Homo sapiens: one gene and its partner. The protein of the gene in region 1 interacts with the protein of each later gene in a biochemical or structural test. Each region holds a gene or a part of one and is shown on either strand. Other genes may lie near its edges.

Evidence for each region. Proteins that work in one complex are often made in the same cells at the same time.
Region 2: the proteins of UNC13A (region 1) and UBXN10 form a complex in vitro, tested with the Homo sapiens proteins (one study listed by BioGRID).

The regions. Positions count from the first base shown.
Region 1 is NC_000019.10:17,678,312-17,685,431, reverse strand, and holds part of UNC13A (protein unc-13 homolog A), read left to right. Parts: intron 1-7,120. UniProt on the Homo sapiens protein: Plays a role in vesicle maturation during exocytosis as a target of the diacylglycerol second messenger pathway.
Region 2 is NC_000001.11:20,189,096-20,196,095, reverse strand, and holds the end of UBXN10 (UBX domain-containing protein 10), read right to left. Parts: intron 5,550-7,000; 5' UTR 5,535-5,549; coding exon 4,692-5,534; 3' UTR 46-4,691; downstream 1-45. UniProt on the Homo sapiens protein: VCP/p97-binding protein required for ciliogenesis. Acts as a tethering factor that facilitates recruitment of VCP/p97 to the intraflagellar transport complex B (IFT-B) in cilia.

The sequences.
Region 1 (7,120 bases):
CACTTGAGGTCAGGAGTTCAAGACCAGCCTGGCCAACATGGTGAAACTTTGTCACTGCTAAAAAATAAAAAAAATTAGCCAGGTGTGGTGGCGCGCACCTGTAGTCTCAGCTACTCGGGAGGCTGAGGAAGGAGAATCACTTGAATAGGGGAGGTGGAGGTTGCAGTGAGCTGAGATCCTGCCACTGTACTCCAGCCTGGGCAACACAGTGAGACTCTGTCTCAAAAAAAAAGATTCACTCATGTCCTAACACTCAGACATGTACCCATACATATCTGTTAAGGTCCCCAACCCCATGAAGCACATATATATTCATATAAGCACATGTCAAAGCCATGTGTGTATGCACATGACAACACTTGCCTGGACATTCAAAGCAGCCCCTTTCAACAAGTGGATGATGATGCATACAAGTAAATACACATTTGAGTATTTCATTGCACACAAGTGCATACATGTATGCAGATAAACAAATACAGCTGCCACAGAACTGCATCCATGTACACATGCAAACATCAATATGTGTGTTTTCCACCTAACATATCACCCACAAGCTCACACACACCAGTGTGTCTCTGATGTAGTGACACCCCACTCCTAGACACACATGTGCAGACTCCCACCTGCACTTAAATGGTGCACATACTCTGCACACATGCACACTCATATCCATGTAGAGGCAGGCACCTGCCTGCCCTGGTAAGATGAGCCAACTACTGCTGCAAATACCCAAGCAAGTACAGGCAAATGCAAGCTCTTGTGTATACACCCAGCACCAACACATAGCAGACCACCCTGTATGGTGTATGGGCCTTATCTCTGCCCGCTTCATTTATTTATTCATGTGGTGCCCCGCTGCTTCCCAACATCGTAATCCACTGACTAGGTCTTGGCAGGATCCTGAGGCTGTGAATGGTAAATGCCACCTGGTTCCTTCATGAAGTCACTTATTTTATTTATGCAACAAGCATTAATTGAGCACCTACTGTATACCAGGCACTGTTCCTGGCTCTGGGACCCAGCCCTATTCCTAGCCATCACTCCTGCACGTCCCATGGGGTTAGAATGAAAGAGATGAGGGAGGGCTAAGGGAGCTGAGGAGTGGGGTATCCAGGGCTCTCTTCCTCTGGGAAGCCTACCCTGATTCCACCACCACCATTTACTTGAGTCTCAGAAGATGTGATGAGGGGGAGATGAGCAGGAGGGAGATGGTGCTCTGGGTGGAGGGAACAGCATGAGCAAAAGCATGGTGGTGTGAAGGGTTACTTCCAGATCTTCCTATGTGCCTCACAGCATTTTGCACAGGCCACTTGATGTTTTGTTTTGTTTTGAGACAGAGTCTCACTCAAAGCCTGTTACTCAGGCTGCAGTGCAGTGGCATGATCTCAGCTTGCTGCAGCCTTGACCTCCAGGGCTCAAGTGATCCTCCTGCCTCAGCCTCCCAAGTAGCTGGGAGTATAGGCATGCACCACCACACCCGGCTGACTTTTTTCTTTTTAATTTTTTGCAGAAGCAGGGTTTTGCCCTGCTGCCCAGGCTGGTCTTGAACTCCTGGGCTCAAGTGATTCACCCTCCTCAGCCTCCCAAAGTGCTAGGATTACAGGTGTGAGCCACCACGCCCAACTGATGTTTTAAAGGCTCTATAAACATGTTATGAATAAATGACATGAACAAATCAGTGAATTTAGGTGAGGGTGGGTTTGCTTCACAACTTACAATAATATCAACAACAAACCCCATTTATCCAGCTTTTTTGTTTGTTTGTTTGTTTTTTGAGACACGGTCTCACTCTGTCACCCGGACTGCAGTGTAGTGGTGTGATCTCGGTTCACTGAAACCTCCACCTTCCAAGTTCAAGCGATTTTCCTGCCTCAGCCTCCCGAGTAGCTGGGATTACAGGCACGTGCTACCACACCTAGCTAGTTTTTGTATTTTTAGTAGAGATGGGGTTTCTCATCTCTACTAAAAATACAAATACATCTCTAGTGGCCAGGCTGGTCTTGAACTCCTGACTTCAAGTGATCCTCTTGCCTCGGCCTCCCAATGTACTGAGATTACAGGCTCGAGCCACCGTGCCCAGCCCAGCATTTCATAGGCATGATGTTAAGGATTTTTATGCCCATGCCCTCTTTAACTCTTACAGTAGCCCCATTGTACAGATGAGGAAAACTGAGGCTCAGGGAGCTTTAACAACTTGCCTGGTGGAACAGAGCCAGAGGTGGAGCTGACTGACTCTAGAGCCTACTGGGGTTGGCAGAAGTTTGAGCCTTCTCTCAGACCCCAGGACCTCGGAGACAGCCAAGTCCCTTCTGTGGAGTGATGTTCTGCCCTGGGATTGCCTTCTTCTTTCTATTTATTTATTTATTGGAGACAGAGTCTGGCTCTGTTGCCCAAGCTGGAGTGCAGTGGCACAATTTCAGTTCACTGTAACCTCCTCCTCCCGGGTTCAAGCAATTCTCCTGCCTCAGCCTCCTGAGTAGCTGAGATTACAGATGCACACCATCATGCCCAGCTAATTTTTTGTATTTTTAGTGGAGATGGGGTTTCACCATGCTAGCCAGGCTGGCCTCGAACTCCTGACCACCAAGTGATCTACCTGCTTTGGCCTCCCAAAGTGCTGGGATTACAGGCATGAGCCACTGTGCCCAGCCAGGATTGCTTTCTTCTCTCATGCATCTAGTAAACAGACATGTCACAATCTCTCCATTCATCGGGGCTATTCCCCTGCTCCTTGCCTAAGAAGCCTTCACACATCCCTCCGTTCCTGGCTACTCAGTCCCTGATACCCTCCAGCTAGGAGGAGCTGCATCTAGGTCTTAGCTCCTACCGTTCTCATGGGATGCCCTCCAGAGTTGCATCTTCAGGGCTGCAGCCTAACCCTTTCCCTAACCTGGCCTCACTTTTCTTCCACATACAATGGACCTCTTCTGCAAGGTGCCAATAAGGGCATCCTGGGTCCAGCAGGCCTGAGTGTGAATTGCTAAGTCCACCACTTCCTGGCAAGTCTCACATCCTCTGCATTCCTTGGTGTGCTCATCTGTGGAATGGGCACAGGAGTAGCATCCACCATCTACGTTTGCCAGAACTCTCTAATGAGGCTTGCAGAGCCCCTGGCATGACTCCTGGCCTACGGGAAGGCCCAATAATCGTGAGCAAAAGACATGAAAAATCAATGATGGGCCGGCCCCGGTGGCTCACGCCTGTAATCCCAGCACTTTGGGAGGCCTAGGCGGGCAGATCTCCTGAGCTCAGGAGTTCAAGACCACCCTGGGCAACATGGTGAAACCCTGTCTTTACTAAAATACAAAAAAATTAGCTGGGTATGGTGGCGCGCGCCTGTAGTCCCAGCTACTCAGGGGGCTGAGGCACGAGAATCGCTTAAGCCCCGAAGGCGGAGGTTGCAGTGAGCCGAGGTCGCGCCACTGCACTCCAGCTTGGGCTACAGAGTGAGACTCCGTCAAAAAAAAAAAAAAAAAAAAATCAATGATGATGTTTTTATTAATGGAGACTAAAAGCTTTCTGGAAGGCGGTTCTGAGTGCAGGACATTTCTGAGAGTCCACTGCATTCTGGGGCCCGAGGAGCGCTCCAAGAGGGGTCCCCCAGGGCCACTCCAGGAGGGAGCCTAGTTCGTTGAGGGTACACGGGTGGGACCGAGCATTCAGCACCGTGGACAGCGCCTGCCCGCGCCTCTGGGGGACAGCTCTTAGCTCAGCCTCCCAGGATTAATGGAGGAGGTGACGTCATTCCTTCCGTGAATTACTATTTAATGAGCACCTACTATAGGCTAGGCCTACTTCTAAGTGGTTCATGGTAAACAACACACACACAAATCCCTTATTCCCGAAGCTCTCTGGAACTCCAGGTTCTTGGTGTTTTTTACACTGAAGGCTCAGTCTGGCTCTGGTCTATTTGTGTCAACGGAGGATAAGGGTCCTCATTTAGTGTCTCCCAGATGCGAAACCAGCACAGCTGAGGTCTTTTATCCTAAAGCCCATCCATCTCCCGCTGAAATGCCCTCCACCAACATCACACACAAAACGATCAAATCTCCTATAATCTATTTCTGGATTCTCTATGCTTCCTCCCTTCCCCCAAGCTAATCCTGGGGCGGGTGGGCTTTCAGAAGCCCTAGACGGCTGGATCTCCACCTCCTGTCTCCCCACCCCATCCCACGTGGCAGGTCAGGGAGCCAGTGCCCCAAGACTGCAGTCCCCCCTAATTAGAATCCAGGGTCAGTCAGCCATGTGGTTCACGCCTGTAATTCCAACACTTTGGGAGGCCGAGGGGATGGCTTGAGCCTTGAAGCCAGCCATAGCAACATAGCAAGACCCCATCTCTACAAAAAAAAAAAAAAAAAAAAAGGAATAGCCAAGCATGGTGATGCGCACCTGCAGTCTCAGCTACTCGAGAGGCTGAGTGGGGAGGATCGCTTGAACCTGGGAGATCGAGGCTGCAGTGAGCCATGATCACACCACTGCCCTCCAGCCTGGAGCCTGGGCAACAGAGAGAGACCCTGTCAAAAAAAAAAAAAAAAAAAAAAAGAAAAGAAAAGAAAAAAAAAGAAGAAGAAGAAGAGAAAAGAAAGAAAAAGAAAAGAATCCAGGGTATTCAAATCCTAGAATCCAGGCCAGGGACACCTTTAGAACACAACCAAATAATAAAAACAGTAAAGATATCAGTAATAATAATAATAGTATAAATGACACTATAATCATTCTGCAGAAGGGGTGAGGGAGGAAGAGGAGGGAAGAAGAGGAGGAGAAAGGAGAGGGAAGGGAGATCAGCCACTCCGTCTCCCCATTTTCCAGATGCAGAAACGGAGGCGCGAAGCCAGGCTGCAGGGGTGTCCCGCAGCCTGAACTCCTGCCTCAGCCTCCCCGGGTACGGCCACTACATTCATCAGTCAGCGCTTCTGGGGGCCCCAAAGACCTTTGAGGCCGCATGACGCGGTGTCTTCACCCGCTCGTCGCTGGGGACAGCAGTGGGCACCCCCCTCATCCCCGCCCCCCTGTCCGCCGGCGCGCCTCCCACGCCCTCCGCGCGCCCACGCTATAAATAGCCTCATGCGTGTGACCCGAAGCCCGCTGGGGAAGGGTGGCGCTTCCGCCCCGCTGACCCTGATACAGCAACCCGGCGCAGGCGGGGAGGTGGCGGGATGTGACGACGAAGACGGTGACTCAGGGACCATTTACTGACCGGGGAAGACAGGGAGAGAGACTGGGTTCCTTCTCTGAGCCCCCTTCCTCCTCCAAGCCTCTCCCCCGATACCACCCTCCCCTCTGCGCCCATCCCCCTTCCCGAATCCCCTCCCTCACCGCGAACACCCTTCCCTCCTGAGAACCCCCTCGCCACTCTCGGCCCCCTTTCCTGTCCCCTTTTCCCTCTGAGACCCCTCTCCCACTGGGAGCCCCAGTGATGAAAAATCATGGATGTCCTCAACCTGGACCTCGGCAGGGAGCTAAGTGCAGGAGCCTGGCTTCAGCTATCAGAGGGTACAGCCCTCCAGCCGGTCCCCCACTGCCTGAGGACCCCAACGGAGACCATTCCCCTCTAGCCAAGAGAGGCTGCAGGAAGGAGCTGAGGCTTAGGGAAGAGGAGCCGGACTGACCAAGGGAGGGGCACAAGAAGGGCAGAGACAGTGAGAGAGAGAAGGAGAGAACAGAGACCAAAAGAAGACGACCAGAGTGGAGAGAAATAGAACGGGGAGGAGGGAGATGAGAGACAGGGATTGGGAAAGAGAGAGAGAGAACAGATCAAGGAGCTACTGGGCTCCCCGCTGAGCCTAAATCCATGGTTTATAAAACAGGGCACAGTTGGAGGAGCTTCAAGTGAGCCCAGCCCAGTCTAGACCCCAGTGAGCCCCTTGTATCACCCCCCAGAGCCTGTCACTTTCCCACCCCCATATGCATCCCTACTTTTCTCCCCCAACTGCCTCTCCTCTCCCCAGTGTCTCCTCCACCTGCCTGCCCTCCCTAGTGGAAATCTTTCCCCCTCTCTCTTTTATTATTATTATTATTATTATATATTTTTTGAGACAGAGTCTTGCTCTGTCGCCCAGGCTGGAGTGCAATGGCGTGATCTTGGCTCACTGCAACCTCCGCCTCCTGGGTTCAAGCGATTCTCCTGCCTCAGCCTCCCGAGTAGCTGGGACTACAGGCGTGCACCATCATGCCCGGCTAATTTTTGTATTTTTAATAGAGATGGGGTTTTACCATGTTGCCCAGGCTGGTCTCGAACTCCTGACCTCATGTGATCCACCTGCCTCGGCCTCAAAGTGCTGGGATTACAGATGTGGGCTACCACGCCCAGCCTCTCTCCCTTTTAAATTATTATTTTTAGACATGGGATCTTACTACATTGCCCAGGCTGGTCTTGAACTCCTGGGCTCAAGGGATCCTCCTGCCTTAGCCTTCCTAGTAGCTGGGATTACAGGCATGTGCCTCTATGCCTGGTACTCTCGCTGTCTCCTTGTGTCTCTCTATTTCTCTCCATCTGTCCAGACTCTCCTCTCTTGCTTTCATGCCCATCATTTCTTCCTCTCTCCTCTCCCTTCCTCTCCCTGTATGAGTCCCTCCAGCTGTGGGTGCCTTTCTCAGCCTCTGTCAGCATCCCCTCCACCCCCGATCCCGTCACATTCTACCTCTTGCCCCTTCCCCTGCCCACCCCCTTCACAGAGAGTCCCCACGCCTGCAGGCTGGACCTCCTCCAGGAGCCAGGCCCAAAGCTCCTGCTGGGCACATTCCTGAGTGTTCCTGAGCCTCTTTCAGTCCCAGGGGTGAGGTGCTGGGTGGGTGCGCTCCCTGGGGGCTGGGTGGGGCTGAGGATGTGAGCGAACAAACCAGACCTAGAAAAAAAAAAGACAGAGATGGAAGCAGAGATGAAGGCCCAGAGAGAGGGGTTCACTTGCCCAGGGTCACACAGCTCAGGAATCTGAACCTGGCTCAAACCAGCATTCACTTCTCTCAAGGCCCACCCAAGGGCTGCAGTGCAGTGGCACAATCTCAGCTCACTGCAACCTCTGCCTTCCAGGTTAAAGGGATTCTCCTGCCTCAGCCTCCCGAGTAGCTGGGATTAGAGGTGCGTGCCACCACACCCGGCTAATTTTTGTTATTTTAGGAG
Region 2 (7,000 bases), on another chromosome or scaffold:
CCCCACTGCACAGATCCCCTCATATAAACACGAGGTGAGCATGAAAACTATGAAACTAGGAGCTTTATTAATTAAGCCCCAGAATGATGGCTTTGTTTGCCTTCCCAAGAAGAAATGCATCCCCAGTCAGCTGCTGGACTGGAATAAATGGAGGGAAGGGTGGCAAGAAAGGGAGGGATGAAGGACAGGAGATAGAGATAAACAGTGTATTTAACTAGAACAAGGATTTCTTATTAAGTAACCTTGGTCAGCAGTCATATCATACCCCTAGAGGTAGATGATACTTTTAACTTATATCTCAACATTAAGTGAAACAGTGACCTTAGTTTTATCTCTTAATTAAAACAATGAATAGCTTTGATTTTCTCTGTACACTTTGTCCAAAAACACTCGTGCATTTCCTTGATGGGAATGTTCCTGCTGGTCAGTGTCTTTCCCCTGCCTGCCATGTGCTTTGCTGCCGTGGTGGTTGTTTGCTTGTTTGTTTTTGCAGAAACAATCCACGTTGGCGATATTGGTCAAGCTAAGTCCACCTGGGTGAATCCCAACTTGTCAAACTATCCTTTTTTTTCTCCTTAAGAAAATGGATTATATGTCCAGAATCTGGCCACCTCTCATGACATCTCTGGCTACCACCCTGGCCCGAACCACCATCACCTCTCTCTGGTCACCTTCATACCTCCAGCACTCAAGTCTTCCATCTTCCACCCCAGCCCCTCAACACGGCAGCCAGAGGGCGCCTCTGAGCAGGACAGTCTGAATGAGGCTTGCTCAGTTTTACCCGTGGGCATTTGTCACCACAGTCGTTCAGTCTCTTGGGATAGGATTTAAGTGTGTCCAAAAATACCTCCAGAGATTTGTGCTTCCGCGTCGACTGTTAGGAGGGCTGCTGCTTCCTAAACTGTTTGAACATAAAGGCACACAGATGAACGTCAGAAAGGGCTGGGAGAAGCTTCCCTAATCAGGAAAGGAAAGTGGCACGCCACCCGTGTAGACAAAAAATAAAACACCTAATTTTAGTTTTATGAGTGTTGTGTGTTGGTAACTGAGTCACCAAAAGTCTGTTCTCCTTTGATTGCTAACTCCTCCGAAGCGACCTCAGGCCTTCCCTGTTATATGGTGGGGTTTGGTTGGTTCTGGTTTCTGGATGAGAGTCAATAGGCTCGTGAACTTTTAACTTTACTGTGGGGTGTTGCCTTAATGGACTGAGAAAACAGATGTTCCTGCTTAATTCTTGGAATGACTTCTAAACTAATGCTAAAGCAAAATAATATAGCTGTCTTCTTTATTCCGTTTAAAAGGTAGAAAAGTAGATCCTCTTACCATGTAAAAGTCTCTTTTATCCGAACTTATTATGAGGATTTTATTTTTAAAACTAAGTAAAGAGAAACATCTTTGTCCCAAGAGGCAGGGTGGCTTTATTTGACATTAGAAACCCATTTAAAACGGCAGGTAAGAGCATGAACAAAAGCAAAGTTTAGTTCCTCGAATGCCTGCTTTTGTAATGCAGGTGGATCTGGCTCTAGTCTTTAAGGTTATTAATTGGAATGAATGCCCCAAGGCTGCTCTTAGTTTCTCTGTGAAGCATTTTATATGGGAGCTCTGGGGTGACTCTGGGTCCACAGTCATGTTCACAAGCCATCTCTTCCGCAGGAGTGCCCTGCCTTGAAGGCTGTTGGCTGGGTCCCCAGATATTCTCAGGGCAAGATCTGTTGTGTTATAACCACCTGCCATCTGTTGGTGCAAATTTTCTGGATTCTAGATGATGAATCACTTACTTCTCCTGCTGTTCCTTCTGCTGCCAAGACTAATTTACCTATTGGACTTTATGAGGGAATATACTAGAGTAACCTATCATGAAGGTTTGTCCTATGCAAAGTTCCTACTCCATCACTAGAAAAGGTGGGCAAGAGCTTCCTTAGCATCTCCAGAGGGTGGGATGAAGAGCCAGCAGTAACAATGTGGGATCCTCACTTTGGGGTCCTTTGCAGATAAAGCTATAGCCACTGACTTCAGTAAGGTTTGAGTTGAGAGTCCAATGGTGGGTTCATGTTTTCTTGCCAACACTTTCTTTTCAGGACACCCATGCTTGTCTCAAAGTGTGGCACTGGGTAAGCCCTCAATGGCCATCGGTTAAATGAATAACTGAGGTCTATGACCCCAAACTGGGCAAGGCTGACCCACCCAAAGCCACCAAGAGGAGTGTGCTAGGCCGGTTGAGCCCATTTAGGACAGGGGGCCTCAGCTGCAATGCAACATGTGGAGCCATCAGGAACTCTGAATTCTGATTTAGTTTGTTCTTGCCAATCCCCAAAATCAGAGTACTTGGAATGATGTTTAGGAAAAATTCAGGTGACTCTTATCCAGACAAGCTAAGTGCTGTGACAGAAGCTGAGAGCAGGAGCCCCGTCGCTTCTGCAGTGGGCATCAGAAGTGTCCGGGGAGGAGGACTTGGTTCTAACAGTGGAACAAGTGCTTTCCCAATGAGAAAACTGAAGATCAGGCTAACACACCCCTCTGTCCAGTCGTGTGTGGGAGCTGAAGCCTTAGGTTAAAATACGAGATGCACTTCTCCACTGACTCAGTTTCACACAAGTTGGTTTTTATCGTATCATCTTTTGTCCAAAAAAAAAATGTTTATTATGATGGTTTGAGTCTAGCTTTATTCACATATCCTAAAATATCCTAAAATATTTCTATGCTTATGCCTTCCACTTTTTCCCAACCCCAAAATTCTAAGCTCACCAGCAGCAGCAAACCCTAAGCACAGAAGATTCTAACTCCTTCAAGCTTGCTCCATTTCACTCAAGTTTTCTAAAGCTTTCCTGTCTGGAGAAATTACCAAGTCCCAGGTGGGTGGGATTTTATTCTTACCACAGAGTAGGTGTGATTTTATGGGAGGCTCTTCCCCCAGCCTCCTAGATCAGACATAGAGTTATGTGCTCAAGTCCTGGTGGGAAGTGAAATTCCTGTACTTTTAGGTGCTGGGCTCAAATTCTGTCTGCTGTGGTCATTAACGGGAAGAGGTGGCCAGTTGTGTGGGCCTGCCTGAGGCACCACTGGCCCCAGCTGACCTTTCCAATCAAAGGAATGGCTGACCAAACCAGGATGGTATTAAGAAATTCTATAAAACATTCAGAAATAACCTATTCTAGAATGATCTGGGCAGTGTGGGATGCAGTTAGGACCAGACCAGCCTTCTTCTGAGCAAATGGCAGTGGTGCCCATCTCCACTAAGCCTCAACGTGCGAGAAAAAACACTCCCAACCATGCAGCTTATCTGAGCACAGGATGCGCTTGTTGCTGGGGTAGCCACATGTATATGCTTCTGGAACTCCTGATTCCTGCCTTCTCTCTGTATACCCAGGAGGCGGGAGCACACACCAGAACTCAGGACTTTGTGATGACCATGCTTTGGGGGAACAACATGCACAGAATGTCTGAGTGTTCCCTACTCTGAAGGATGATTTGGCCATAAAAGGGATCAGATGAGTCATGGAGTCTGGCTGAACTTGCAATAGAAGAGAACATTGGCAAACTGTCCACATCAGCACTTCGAAGTTGGAAACACAAGACCCCATGGTCTTCAAAGCAGCTCAGGCTAAGACAGGCTGATGTACTTCATGCCGGTCAACCAGATGCTCGGGCACATGGTCTCTCAGCACAGGCACAGCAAAGTAACACGAGACCAAGGCACCCCCCTCCTCCTCCAGAGGTTCTAAGTCAGAACAGGCACCTCTGTCACAGCTCCAAAGGACACACCATGTTTGAAGTGGGCAACGCACTGAAACTGGGGAATAAAACAATTGCTCCACCCCCAAATAAGCCAAGGAGGTTGTCAGTACAAACCTGTTTAAACTTATAGGTTTGTACATTTTAAAAACAAAAGATTCCATTACTGACAAAAGCAAAAGAAATCAGACTGCACTGGCTTTTCTCGGTTTTGGAAGAATTCAGCCCACAGAGTAGCTCCCAGAAGTTGTAAACCTAGTCAGTCTCTATTAAAAAGTAGCTACTGGGTAATCCATGCTCATGGAAGCAACTTACTTTCAAGCTTTAGGACTATTTTAGAAATGCTGATGTTTTGGGGAAGAAAACCCATTCTTCCCTTAGATGCCACCTCACACAAATAGTAAATCCCTAAGAAACTGACCATGCATGGTAAAGGGCTACTTCCAAAGATGGGGTCAACGGCCTGTTTCTTCAAAATACTCGCAAGAAACACAAATGCCAGTTAGATAGTTCCTACACTGTGGTTATTTACCAGACTAGAATCCTCTCTGGGAAGTGTTTAATCCTGCATCAAATACAGACAGGAAAGCATTGGCTTCGAGAGAATCACAGTTCACTGTAAAGGCAAGCCGGTGTTCGAAAAGGACCATTAATTCAGAAGGACCCAAAACTCTGGAAAGGAGAAGTCATGATCACTGCTGTTTCAGGAACAACCTTGGTAACTTGCCAGTTACGCTGGTGGTGGAGAGAATGGAACAGCTGGAAGGGAGACTTCTTAGCGCGCTCGGCATAGGCACAGACTTCACTGCTTCAGAGGACACGCAGTGCAGACGAGAGTCCCAAGCTTCCCAGCTGCACCAGGTCCACATGGCACTTGAAACAGGCTGCCTAAGAGGCCACAACGCCCAAGCATGCTCCTTTGCTCAGAGACCCAGGACCTCAGCTGGGTGGCTGTGGACTCAGGGCCACCCTTCCCCATCTTCCAGTGAGATGCCCAGCACAGACTTGTGGGGGATTCTGCACTCTTGCAGAGATTTGGTGAGGTCAGAAAATCGCCTCCTGGGCACCTCCATTGTTTCAATGCTGCAGTGTCGGTAGGAGGTTTTGTTTTTCTGTTCGGCCACAGCAACAATGGTTTGCAAATCATCTGTTGGCCGGAAATGGCGTACAAACCTTTGGCCTGTTGGTGATCTAACAGCAAGCAGCAACCTTGGTTCTTGGTCCGATGGTTCCTCCAGATTTCCAGCCCTGGAAGAGCCCTGTTTCTTGGTTCGGACGATGAATTTCCTCTCCACGGCACAAGCTCGAGCTCTGGAATCTTCTTCACTTGTCTTCATGGTGCCCGTCTCGTCTTGGTAAAGAGCCCGGATACTGCTCAGTTGCAGTGAGCTGGCCTTTTTGGCAACGGTTTCCACAGCCTCCTCCTCCAGGTTCTTTCTGTTGATGGAAGGAAGGACTGGATACTTATTGAGAGAAGAGGAAGCCCCAGTGGGTACTTGCTGCTGCAGCTCAGGGATCTCATCAGAAGCTCCCTGGTTTGGAGATTTGGGTGCACAGGCTCCTGGTTTTTGGCTGCTTGGCAACTCATAGGGAATGGCTGGAGGCGGAGATGGTATATGATGAGCGCACACCTCCACGCCCTGGGATTTCTGCAGACTCGGTCTTGTCCGTCCCTTGGCGGACTTGGGCCTTATCATGTGCATATTTAGTGAGTTTGGCTGCCAAATGAGGCTGTCAACTGCTGTGCTGACAACAGTGCTACACTCAGGTGGTGCTATATTCACAGGGGCTTCTGTGGCCATTGCTTCTCAAGACCCCTAAGGAAGCAGGAAAAAAACAGGAGTCCGTGGGTTAAACTTCCTGGGACTCCTAGATCCAAGCCATTCCCTCCCTGAGTGCCCAGAATAAGCACAAATTTCTGGCATCTAGTAAGGGGCACCAGCTGCAATTTATTCATTCAGGCATGCATTCATTTATTTTAGGCACTTGCGAGAGATCAGCAAACCGAAGTCCTTGCAATGTAAATTATTATAGTGAGGAAAGACAGGGGTTAAAACCCACAAGTAAATAGATATTTTCAAAGAGTAACAACCGCTATGAAGAAAATAAAAATTATTGCACCAGAGCGTGATTAAGGTGGGGGACTAATTCTTATTCTTTTAGGAGGGGGGAAGTTTCTGGTAAAAACCAGAAAACCTGCTGTGTTTCAGTAAAACTTCATTTTTGGACTCTGAAATTTGAATTTCAGATAATTTTCATGTGTCACAAAATACTCTCTTTTGATTCTTTTTCAATGATTTAAAAATGTGAAAGCTATTCTTAGTTCATGAGCCACACAAAATAGGTGACGGGCCGGATTTGGGCTGTGGGCCATCATTTGTTGGTCCCTGTCCTACAGCAACTCTGGGCGCATGCTAATTCTACAGATGTATGAGCCAGAAAGGTAGAGTGATTTCCCAATGGTCACACAGCCAGCTGGTGGCAGAGCTGGAGATAGGACCCAGGTCTTGTGACACCCGATCCTGTGTCCTCTGTACCCATACAAGCTGCTTCCTGAGCCCAGCACATCACATTCTGTATGTCTGCTAGCTGCTCACATTTCTTTTTTTCTTTTTCTTTTTTTCTTTTTCTTTTTTGAGACAGAGTCTCACTCCATCACTCAGGCTGCAATGCAGTGGCACCATCTCAGCTCATTGCAATCTCCGCCTCCCAGGTTCAAGCAATTCTTGTGCCTCAGCCTCCCGAGCTGTTCAGACTTCTGTCTTCCCAGCTACCCGATAGGCACCCTGGGGCCTCTGTATTTGGATCTCCCACCAAAAGTCTGTGTGAGTGCTGGTTAAATCCACCAGGAGCAATGAACTGAAGCATGGTGGGAGGCGTGAACATTTCTCTGTGCAGACCCGGAATTGCTAAACCATGACACCTCCTCTTTCATTGCCATCTTGGTGGCCACTTCACTAACACTACTACCAGCACCTCCTCCTCCCAATCTCCAGTTCCATCTTTCCCTAAACATTGCAGACATCTTATTGGGCTCCCTGCCTCCCTCTGAATCCTGACCACCACTGTGACTCCTGCCTTCTCTGCTTGAAAGCTGACCTGGCCTCTCCTAGCCTTCTAAAGACCTTCTGGTGACTTTCCAGTGATTCATGGTCCCCAAGAAACAGCATATTTGGGAGCAAAGGACAGAGGACCAGGTGTCACAAAGTGTGGGTTCAATTTCAGCTTCTCTGCCACTGGCTAGCTACCTGATCAAGGGGCAATCACT